Homo sapiens: one gene and its partners. The protein of the gene in region 2 purifies or fractionates together with the protein of the main gene of each other region. This does not show direct contact. Each region holds a gene or a part of one and is shown on either strand. Other genes may lie near its edges.

Region 1 (3,646 bases), on a different chromosome or scaffold from region 2:
AAAAATTAGCCAGGTGTGGTGGCAGGTGCCTGTAATCCCAGCTACTCAGGAAGCTGAGGCAGAAGAATCATTTGAACCCAGGAGGCGGAGGTTGCAGTGAGCTGAGTTCACACCATTGCACTCCAGCTTGGGCAACAGAGTGAGACTCTGTCTCAAAAAAAAAAAAATTGGTTTCTATCTCATAGGGCTGTTTCAGGAACAAAAAGAGTGAACTGTGTAGAACGGCACCTGCGCACAGTCAGAACATGCTAGAGGTTGCGTTGCTATTACTAATATCACCACGTTGCACTCACAACCGAGGACGGGAGAGACTGCTTGAGATGAGAGCGGGAGCTGAAACTCAAACCCAGCCCGATCTCTCTCCTCCTCCACTTCCCCCATGGTCCCAAGAAGTCTCTTGCTTTTAGAGGCTGTGGAGAAGTGGCACTATGACACCCAGGGAGAGGCAGAGGACACATGGGCAGCCTGCTCCACGAGGGTGGCAGGTGAAGGCTACGATACCCAGGATGGGCCAGAGATGCTGGGGTGTGCCCGGGTTAGGAACACTCAGAGTGAGGCAGATTCTGGGCCTTTACATGCTGGCGGGGTCCCCGGGTTGGGGGAGATTAGGCGGGTTCTGTACAGCCCTGGGGCTATGGAGGCAGGTTTTGGCTCAAGGCACAAAGGACTTTCTCATTGTCAGGAGTGCCGAGGAGGGCTAGAGATAGTGAGGGAAGGTGGTGCGAGCCCCATCCTCCGAGGCATGCAAGCAGGGCCCAAGCCCTATCTTCAAGCCCCACCCGTGGTCTGTGATGTCCCTGCTGGGAGAGGTCTCCCTGGAGCATGTCACCTTCTGAAGACCACGCGAACCTGGGGAGTTCAGCAGAACCCTGAAATGGAGCTTGGGAGATTCAGAGCAGGAACTCTGGGTGCCTGGCTCACCCCAGCTCCTCTCCAACCCTCTGCAGTTCCCTCCACCAGGAATGGTCCTCCCTCAGAGCTGGGTATCCCCTCCTGCAGGAATCCCCCCTCACCTGAGGACACTCTTAGTGGATTAGGGACTCTCCTGCCTGTCCCTTGTGAGCACCGAGAAAGCCATGCCTGTGTCCCCAGCACCCACCCTAGGGCTGGCCCCAGTGGCACTCAATAACTGCTAGAAAGTGATGGCTGGAGGCAAACCACTACCCCTGCAGGGGCCCTGAGAAGAGAAGGTGGAGAGATGCGGCAGCCCCAGAGCCCTGGGGTGACCTGGCCCCTTCCCATCCCCCAGCCCCCCTCACCTGGAGCACAATGGCTGGCACCGAGAAGATCATGGCTTCGTTGAACACCGGGTTGGGGTCATCCCTCTTCACGGCTGTCTTCTTTTTGCTCATCTTCCTCCCATCCTGCAGCAGGTACACCTTGACGAAGGGGTCTGTGGGCAGGCGGACAGGTGAGGGCCAGTGTCACACTCACTCACCACAGCCCTGCCCAGTTTGGCTCCACCCACCGACTCCAAACTCCCCAATGCTTAACTGTTGCTGTGACCTCCTGCAGCCCTGCCATTGGTCCTTTATTATTTTTCCCATTTCACAGATGAGAAAACTGAGGCTCACACAGCACGTCAGGTGAGGGCTGGGCTTTGTGCTCAGGCAGCTGCCTCACAGCCCACGCGCTCCCCTCCTAGGATGCTCTGGGGAACTCAGCAGCCCCACCGTGTTCCTTCTATAAATGGCCCGAGTGCAGACGTCAGCCCTGAGTCACCGGGCACCCGCACAGCAGAGCCTGACTCAACCGTGTGCGGCTCTGAAATAACAACTTGCCGTCTGCCCATCACCTATTGCCCACGGGGTGTCCTTGCCGCACCTGCCTGGAGCTGCCCCCCCCACCTACCCCCGCCCCAAGGCTTGCAACTCCCAATAGATCAGGCTCCCCCAGCCCCTGGTCTTCAGTTCTCTAGAATACAGCTGCCTCCACGGTCACTGCTTTGAGAGGGACTGGGGACTCCTGCAGACCTAAGGCATCGGGTCCTGCCTGGCACCCACCCCAACCCCGTGGCCCTGGTCCCTTTTTGGAGTCTGGGATACTGCCCTGTCTCTGGGAATGGAGTCTCCACCATGAATTCCAGTTCCAGGGAACAGATGCCCACCTTGGTTCCCTGCCCAGTGCCCCCAGCCCTGAGTGCGGCCTCCTGCCCTGAGACCCCCGCATCACTCTGACCCCCTTCACTCTGCCCTCACAGGGGCCCCTGCCACCCTCCAGGGATCTCATGTTTCCCCGGCTGGATTAATTGTCCCCATGCCACCCCCTATCCATCTGCATGACTTCTGGGCTCAGCAAAGCTGAGGGGGACCTTGGCACTGTGTCCCACACCTGCCGATGCCTCCGGGTGCCCACAGCACAGCAGCTGGGCCACAGCTTCCACTGAGCTACGTGGAGGAGCCGGGCTGCCGGCTGGGCCTTACCCGCTGTGGTCTTGTCGTTGGTCCAGATGAGGTTCTTGGCCTTAACCACGACCACGGTGAGGCGCTCGGCTGTGGGGAGGTAGCTGAGGGAGAGCAGGATCTCCCCCACAGCATCGGCGGCCTGGGGGACAGACAGGTGGCTCAGAGGGCTTCTCCCCACCCGACTTGAGGGGTCCAGGGAAAGCCTTGGTTGCCAGGGAAAGGCTGGGGCTTCCTTCTCCATAGAGAAGTGGCTGCACTGGGGGCCCCTTACCACAGGGCTCCAGGCAGGCAGGGACAGCCTGGAGAAAGGGACAGCCACCCACCCCCCGCCACTGCATGGAGCATGCCCCACTCCTCCCTTCCACCGGGAGGGTCCTGCCTGGGGCGGAGGGTCAGAGGCGGCCTGTCAAATGTAGCTATCAAATGTAGTTTCGTTCCCTCATTGCAGGCCAAGGAAAACACTGCGGTAGTAATACACAGCGATCAGAGTGGAATGGAATTAGATTCTTTGATTAAACAACAATGATGTTCTGTGAGCATTCCTACAATTATAAAACTAAAGTGCAGCTTGGTGTCTGTCTGAAATCATCCCCTCTAAGGCTAGAGGAATGTTTCTCTAGCAGAAGCTCAGTAGGGGTAGAACCTCTGAAGCTTTGGTGGCAAAGCAGCAGACGAGCTGTAAACAGTGGTCGGGATGTTTTTGAAATTTGCCTGCAGCAAGCAGTTTCCTCGGATGTGGCTCAGGTCTTCTTCTCTGCTCTCCTAATGATGATGGGGCTCAGGCTATTGCAGAGGATGATGAGGATGATGGAGTCCCTTCCTGGAAGTGTATGTGTGTGCACGCTCTTCCGAGGTGGACGAGCAGGCAAGTCACTTACCTTGTTCTGGTCCTGTAAATAGAGCCAGCCACTGAAGGGCTGCAGCGGGAGGTCAAGCACAGAAAGCTTCAGCTCCACCACCCCCGTGCTGACGTTGCGCTCATCCTCATCGATGCCAAATACAGAAAACCGCAGGCTCTTCTCCTCCAGGGCTGTGGGATCCAGGGGGATGGAGAACTTCTCATCAAAGAAGATGGAGTAGGCATTTCTCTGGATCTGCAGGAGAAAAGGCCATGGAGGGCGCTAGGGGCCTGAGAGGCCACAGCAGGGAGACAGCACTGGACAGGGAGTCCAGAGGCCCAGGCTAGAGTCCTGGCTCTGTTGTCTTGACACCCTCAATGCCAATCTTTCCTTTGGTGGCTC
Region 2 (3,746 bases):
TCCCAAGAGCAACTCTCACCATCATTAATTGCTCCGACTGCTCCTCCAAGACCTACCTCTGTAAAGCTCCTCCTTGAAGGGCACAACCTCATCTCTCTTCCACTCCCAGGAAGGCAGGCTGGAAACCTAATAGAGACTCCCTAAGAAACCTGCATTCTATCTTTCCCTGACCATTCAATTTCCGTACTTCCACCAGAGCCCAACTTCTATCAGACAAACTCCATGCTATCTGCATGCTAACTCCATGGATAATCTGCATGAAAAGGGGGGAAAGAGACAAAATCATGTTACAAAACTTGGGCAAGGGTCTAGACTCAACTTGCTTTGAAAGATCTTAAATCTTCCCATTCATTTGTAGACAGCAGTGGGCCTTTTTCTTCCTCTGCTCTGCACGACCTTCTAGCCCAAGTGCTAGTATCACCTTTTCCTAAAGACTTTTAAGACAAACTGTGACCATTTATGTCTACATGACACAGTTTCAGGATAACAAAGTGTGAAGACACACAAAGACGTCAAACATTTATCAGAGACCTAAGCGAAACGCCAATAAATGTTACAGGGATCAAGAATATGGTTACTGACATTGAATGTATCCTGTGGCTTTGAAGAATCCAAAGGATGATTCTCGAATAATGTATCCTTCCAAATTCTCCAGAAGTTCTAAGTTTAGACATCATAATGAAATGTCACCACGTTCCTCTGCCAGAAGTTGTTCAGTACTGAGGGGCTAATGATGCTTTCGCTTAAAGCCGATTCCCCCAATAAAGGGTGCCAAGGCTTTTCTGAAGCCCTGCTTCCGGCTGGCGACTTTGAAGCTGAGACGCAGGTTCACGCGCAGTTTCCGAAGACCTATTCCGTCCCCACCCTCCTCCCCTTCCTCGGAGACACCTCCACTTAACACTGCCTTCTCAGTCCCTCGCCGCCTGTTTAAACACAACTTCCACCCCTCACAAATCAGAAAGCTGTAATTTCAAAGTTTCAGAAACGTTTTCGGAAAGCCTCCTCCAATGGGAAGCGACTTCGCCGCTGAGTTAAGCGTCCGAATCCTCCTTCCCGCGGCAGGGACACCGGCCCGGGCCAGGTCTGCGGAGGACGCCCCCGGGCGCGCACACACAGCCCGAGGACGCGCCCTGTATTTTAAGACGCAGGGTCGGATTTCACCCCGAAACTTGGCTCCCACAGCCCCAGGCCGAACTGTGTCTGGTTCTCAGCCCCCGAGCCCGAGTTCTACGCCGCAAAGAGATGGGGCCCCATTGTGCCTAGCTGGCCTCCTAGCACGGACGTGTATTTTCTTTTGGTCTGTCTTTTGCTAAAAACCGGCAGTGCGCTTCGCCTCCCTGCCCAGCCGCAGCCTGCCGTCCCCTAGACAAAAAGCGGCGACCGCGGCCCGGCCACCCGAGCCCCGCCGCGCTGCGCCTTTGTTGGGCGGTCCACAGATGGTGCCCAGCACGGGGCCGCGCCGAGGGCGGGGGCGGGAGGCCGCGAAGAGGGTCGGGCGGGAGGGGAGGAGACGGCGGAGCAGCCAATCCGCGCGCGGCCCATCAGCTGACCGCCTTTGCTTACACCAGGTGCACGCCGGCTGCGGGGAGCACAAAGCGGGGCGCACCGCGGGCGCCGGCAACGAGCCGGTGAACGAGGCGAGGCCCGTGCGCCCGCGGCTGCAAGCGCCCGCCTGGCGGGGAGAGGGGCCGACGGCGTCAGCCCGGGCGGCGGCATCCCTAGGCGCCTGGGGCGCCTTCCTCCGGACCTGGCCGCTCGCTGCCCCGCCCTCTGCACCCCACTTCTCCGACCCTCCTTCCCAGTCCTGCCTCCCCCTGCCCTGGCCTCTGAGAGCCGACTGAGCCCAGCCCCGTGCAGCAGCGGTTGCCTGTGTCGCCGCCTAGTCTCCGGTCTTGGTGCTCTCCCGGGGGTGCCCCAAGGAGCCAGTGCGCGCTGCGGGCTGGGAAGGAGGCGCCGCTCAGCTAGTCCTCCTCCTCCTCCTCGTCTTTCTCCTCCTCCTGCTGCTGCTGCCGCCGCCGCCGCCGTGGGTGCCGGGTCCGCGCGCACCCCAACACCCCCACCAGCTGGGCCTCGGGGTAAGTCCCTGGCCGGCCGCGCCGCGGCAGGAGGTGTGGGAGGCAGCGAGGGGAAGTCGAGGCAAACTTGGTGGCGTGGGAGACCCTACGGGGTCTGGGGAACCTCAGGGTAAGATCGCGGGCCTGAGGGGGACGAGGGGGCGCGGCTCACGGAGCTGGGGAAAATGACGAAGTCGGGAAACGAGAATATAGTGCCCCGTTTCCCCCCGTCCCCCTTGCCAAAAAAAAAAAAAAAAAGGTGTGGGAGAGCGATAGTTGGGAAGGCAGGCCAGATAGAAACAGGCAAAAAAAGGCAGTGACCGGAGCCGAGCCTGCTGGATTTCAGGGGCCGACCAGGGGAGGGAGGTGCCCGGGGACGGGGAGGGAGGAGGGCTGCCGGGATGTGAACCGGGGAAGGCAGCTGGGGCTGGAGAGCAGCGCGGAAAGGGGGCCCAGGGAGCTGGAAAGAGGGCCAAGAGGAGGGCAAGGAAGGTGGCGGGCGACGGGGAGAGGAAAGAAAAAGGGTGTCTTGGCGGTGGCCTTGGTAAGAGAAAGGGGCAAGGGGTATAATTGACAAGGCACTGAAAGTATTGAAGTCAGAGCCTTGGGAAGGATCTACCGAACTCTCGGCGGTCCACGCGGGGACAGACCTCAGCCCGTGAGCCTTGAGCTCCACGCGGGGACAGACCTCAGCCCGTGAGCCTTGAGCTCCACGCGGGGACAGACCTCAGCCCGTGAGCCTTGAGCTCCACGCGGGGACAGACCTCAGCCCGTGAGCCTTGAGCTCCACGCGGGGACAGACCTCAGCCCGTGAGCCTTGAGCTCCACGCGGGGACAGACCTCAGCCCGTGAGCCTTGAGCCCAGAAGGAGTGGCAGCCTCAGGACGTTTGCCAGGTGGCCTGGAATGTGAGGGAAGCCTCAGCCCCGCCAGGAACAGAGCTGGCGCTGAGTTCCCGGCTCGGCCCGGGTCAGAAGCGAGGAAAGTTTGCCGGCGAGTGTCCTTTGTGCTGCGTGGAGAGGGGTGTGGGCGGCCGCCGACTCGGCGCTTCCCCGCCGCCCGCCCAGGGAGTCCCTGCCTGGCAAGCTGGGGCTCGGGGAAAAGTCCAGCAGCGAGAGGGCCGCGTGTCCCGGGACGGTTCCAGGGGAGCCCGCGCGGAAACGCGGACCAGGCGCTTCGGCCCGGATGCCGGATCCAGGAGAAGGGGACCTCGCTTGCCGTGTCCACCGCCGCGGCCCCAGCGCCAAGAACAGAGCCTGGCCGTGAGTGAACGACTGGCCGGGGTACAAATGGTTCTGAAGCACTTGAAGCTCACAGGCAAAGGCTAAGAGTCTAAATCCCATCCCGCCGTAAGTATTTTCATTCCCAAACCTAAATCGTAAAGGAAAAGTGGAATTCTAATTGGGTGAGGGAACAGGTGCTGCCGACTCTGGCTTTTGCGTGGAGGATTTTCTAAAAGACAACATGTTTTGTTTTGTCTTGCCATGACAATCTAAATCATGTTAGTGGAATAGGCTCATTATTTCATTTTTAAAAGCTAGGGCTGGAGGAGTGGAAAGTTCAGGAAGGCACTTTGATCAGTATAAATCTAGAGTAAAAGTGTTATTGGCTCCAGGGCCATATGTGTCCCGAAGTCTCTGATTTGCATGCAAATGTGAGCGGATCCTGGCAGATGTCTGGCCTCATCCATTCA
Region 3 (3,646 bases), on a different chromosome or scaffold from region 2:
AAATGCTCAAACGCCCCTTTTTGCAGTTGGGAAGTTATGACACAAACATTGGACATCTCTGACATATTTTTTCTCGTTTTCAGCTTTTCGGATGATCCCTTATCCCTTGGAAAAGGGGCACCTATTTTATCCTTACCCAATCTGTACAGAAACAGCAGACCGAGAGCTGCTTCCATGTAAGTCTCACCTCTCTTCAGCCAGTGAGGGTGTGTGGTGAAAGGTGGGGATTGGAAGAGGTGGGAATATCAAAGTTTAGAATGCTCCTTGTCTTTTATTACTTTTCTCCAAACCCCTGTCCTTGTTTGATAGCATATGTATTAAAGTGAATTATGTGAGTGGGTTTGGCTTCCTTTTCCTCCAAGTCTCTCCAAATTTATCAAAGGGAAAGATGCCAAAGGATTGAAATGTAGCTGAAGAAACCCTATGTACTGATTGGCCTGAGCACAGAGACCCCTGGTTTGGGCTGGTGTCTGCTGGGCTGGTCCATTGTGAGGGTTCTGCCTGGGCTCTTCAGCTGGACAGATGTGGTCTGCACCGACCGGAGTTTGAAGAGGAGCTGCTGACTGAGAGGGAGCTGCGCATGAGTCATGGGTGGGAGGCCAGCACCAGGAAGCTGGCACCATGGCCAGATGTGGAGTTGTGGGGCAGGGCAGTGTGCTGTGTGGTGAGGCTGTGCTCTGGCAAGAGGGATTTCCCGTGAGCACCTCGTGGGTTGCATGTAGTGACTCGGAGTACCATGTGCAGAGCACACGTGTAGCCTCAGCACTGTATGAAAGCACACAAAAGAAAACCCTGCCCTCGACTACCTTACACTTGCTAGCAGTCTAATGACCCATACCACATGTGGAAAATATTATTTTGCTTTGCTGTAATACAACATTGTTTTGACAATTCAGGCTAAATGGTTATTATCAAATCATACTATGTACAAGGATCATGTCAGGCTCTTCATGTGGCCCAGACTTAGGATATATTTTTCTCCCTCAGATAATAAGCTCCAAATTTTAGCTCTTCTCCCTTCTCTGTCCTCTCTCCTGCCATCTCTGCCCTTTCACCAGCCCCAGTTATATCAATATCTTATAGCTGTAACATATAAGTACTTTCCCCAGAGGAACAGTGTAACCTTAGAGCCCTGGGTGCATAGTAAATTTCCAAACACCAGCATCATCAAGCCAGTCATGAATCTCCAGCATGGTGGGATCTGGGTGCAGAACTCAATGGCTGTCATCAGATTGAGGTAGCAGGAGTTGCTCACTTGCCTTCCTGCCAGCCAGACCCAGTGCGAGATTTGTTACTCAGGGAACTGGGAGATCCCCGTGATGTGTTTCTCACCGTTCGAGTTTGATTGTGAAAAGAGTCTGGTACCTCACACATTAGATTTGATTTCAGAAATCCTCACCGTGGGCCCATAGTTTACCTTTCAACTCCCCCTTCAGGGAGATCCTTGTTAAGTTTCGGTTTTCTGGTAAGAAAGGCAGTTTTCTGAAAAGTACAGTATTTTTAAATGTTTTAATCGAGTCCAATTAAGTTTCCATGGGGATAGATTAGTTATTAGAACAAGATTACAGTTCTTAAGAGAAACCTTATAGGGATAATCTTTATAAGCCTGAAATAGGAAATTATGGCTCACATTAATTGAATGCAGTGCTCCAAGTCTGGTCTCCCTCCAAAATCTTTTTTGGTTGGATGTTAAGGGTGAGGATATGAAGAAGGTAGGTTGTTTTAAGTGCTACCCATAATTTGCACATTAAAAGTATAATTATAGCCACACGAGGCCCTGAGCACACTTGTTCCGTGTGTTTGAATCCCAGCAGGCTGACCTACCTGGATGTAGTAGGCATATTCGTCTGCATGGAGTTCCTCCTGGATTCCCTCCACCCTCAGTATTAGCCTTGTGGATTACTGTTGAAGACTCTGAGGAATAGGAGCTGAATGGTAGAGGAAAGGCCTCTAGATCTTGTATTCCCTGAGGACCATGGAGCCCTCTGGTCCTCTTGGTTAGAGTGGGCTGTTTCTCACGTGCAGTTTCACAGCCTCTCCCCCAGCACCCCCAGCAGGTGGCTCTTTCTCCTCCTGCAGGCCCGCCCCATCGACCCAGGCAGTCTCTCAGGCAGCCTCATCATGAGCACAGAGAAGGAGGCGATTCTCTTGACCTCTGTACCACAGCTTTTTGGTTTTCCCAAACCCAATGTTTGAAATATAATATAAAAATTATAGAGGGCACTCTAAAGAGCACCAGCTTTTCTTGTTTTTTTGATGATTGTTGGAAGTGTATTTGTCATCAAGAGTCTCTTACAATTGTGCCAGATAACCCTAGCAGTCTTGACCTTCCCTCCTTGCAGTTTGAATAGACCTACATGTGAGGTCCTTGCTGGATATCTCTCTATGAGGGTGGCACCCTCCACTGATATACTTAGAGGGTGCCAGGAAAAAATACAGGAGAAACTAGTATCATCTCATTATAATGATTTTTTAAATACAGGAAGGAAAAAATATAGACGGGATACCTTTTTTCCCTGTATACTCGGTTTTGGATTTTCCAGGTTTTGTACAATGAACACGTGTTTTGTAATTTGAGTAAATTACAAATTGTTTCAGCTGTGTTTGCTTTTGAGAAAAAAATACTATACATTAGGCATAGGCGGTGCTCCTCTTCCCTCCCATGAAGGCGTGACACCCTCAAATCAGCCCCCTCCTGCCTCAATTTAGAGTGCTGAAGGCTGGATGGAGACTTGCGACCAGCAGATGGGCCTCCAAAGGCTGGGTCAGATGTTGGCTATGGTTTGTCAGGTGTGCTATTTTTTCATTTCCCATAGGCTTCCAACTCTTTCCCAAGCTCTGGAGTCAGTGCCACCATAAAGACCTCCCCTGAGAGTGCAGTTTACTCCAGCCCTGATATTTCCCTTTTGGTCTTCTCCACAGCTTTCCATGAAGTCTCAGTTTACCCAAAGAAGGAGCTTCCCTTCTTTATTCTCTTTACTGCTGGATTATGTTCCTTCACAGCCATGCTGGCCCTCCTGACACATCAGTTCCCGGAACTTATGGGGGTCTTCGCAAAAGCTGTGAGTGTTTGCCTAGAGGGAGGCCTTGGGGAATGGATGGGGAAAGCCAAGGGCATAAAAGCAGCGTGAGAGAAATGGGGTTGCCTTACAGAAATGGGTACGAGCCTGCAAAGATCATTGCTCACCATTTAATTTTCATGATCGTCAATGGAATCAAAGCATTAAGGGTCAAATGAGAAAGTGCAGGTTGTTACTGCATGCCTTGCCTCATTTCACAACAAATTCTTAGCAGTTTCCAAAAAATGCAGGAGGTCCAAAAGGATGGAATGATTTAGGAAATCCTAGCAAATGAAAATGTGTGGGAAGTTACTCGGTTTTCTGTAAATTGAATGACATTATTTCCAATCGTTGGATATTGTGGGTCTTTCCTTAGTGAAGGATGAGATTTACATTTTCAAAGATGATTTAAATAATTTTTTTTAATGGCTGCAAACCCTTGGCTTGTCTAAGGAATGAACAGAGGGTGTAAAGGGCTTATTAAGAAGTAAACTGAAATGACATTTAGAAATATGGAAATCCATTAAGAGTCTTTAAGGAGCTTGGGGAGAGGAGCTTTAATAAGAAAAGCCATCTGCATTGACAGC

The links.
Region 1: the proteins of LRRN1 (region 2) and SYT12 purify together in Homo sapiens (co-immunoprecipitation; one large-scale study listed by IntAct). This does not show direct contact.
Region 3: the proteins of LRRN1 (region 2) and ST7 purify together in Homo sapiens (affinity purification with mass spectrometry; one large-scale study listed by BioGRID and IntAct). This does not show direct contact.

Annotation. Positions count from the first base shown.
Region 1 is NC_000011.10:67,043,491-67,047,136, reverse strand, and holds part of SYT12 (synaptotagmin-12), read right to left. Parts: intron 3,500-3,646; coding exon 3,284-3,499; intron 2,545-3,283; coding exon 2,424-2,544; intron 1,495-2,423; exon of another isoform or gene 1,429-1,494; intron 1,394-1,428; coding exon 1,260-1,393; intron 1-1,259. UniProt on the Homo sapiens protein: Synaptic vesicle phosphoprotein that enhances spontaneous neurotransmitter release but does not effect induced neurotransmitter release. Unlike other synaptotagmins, it does not bind Ca(2+) or phospholipids.
Region 2 is NC_000003.12:3,797,845-3,801,590, forward strand, and holds the start of LRRN1 (leucine-rich repeat neuronal protein 1 precursor), read left to right. Parts: upstream 1-1,586; 5' UTR 1,587-2,075; intron 2,076-2,856; exon of another isoform or gene 2,857-3,031; intron 3,032-3,120; exon of another isoform or gene 3,121-3,402; intron 3,403-3,746.
Region 3 is NC_000007.14:117,219,001-117,222,646, forward strand, and holds part of ST7 (suppressor of tumorigenicity 7 protein), read left to right. Parts: intron 1-83; coding exon 84-176; intron 177-2,922; coding exon 2,923-3,062; intron 3,063-3,646. UniProt on the Homo sapiens protein: May act as a tumor suppressor.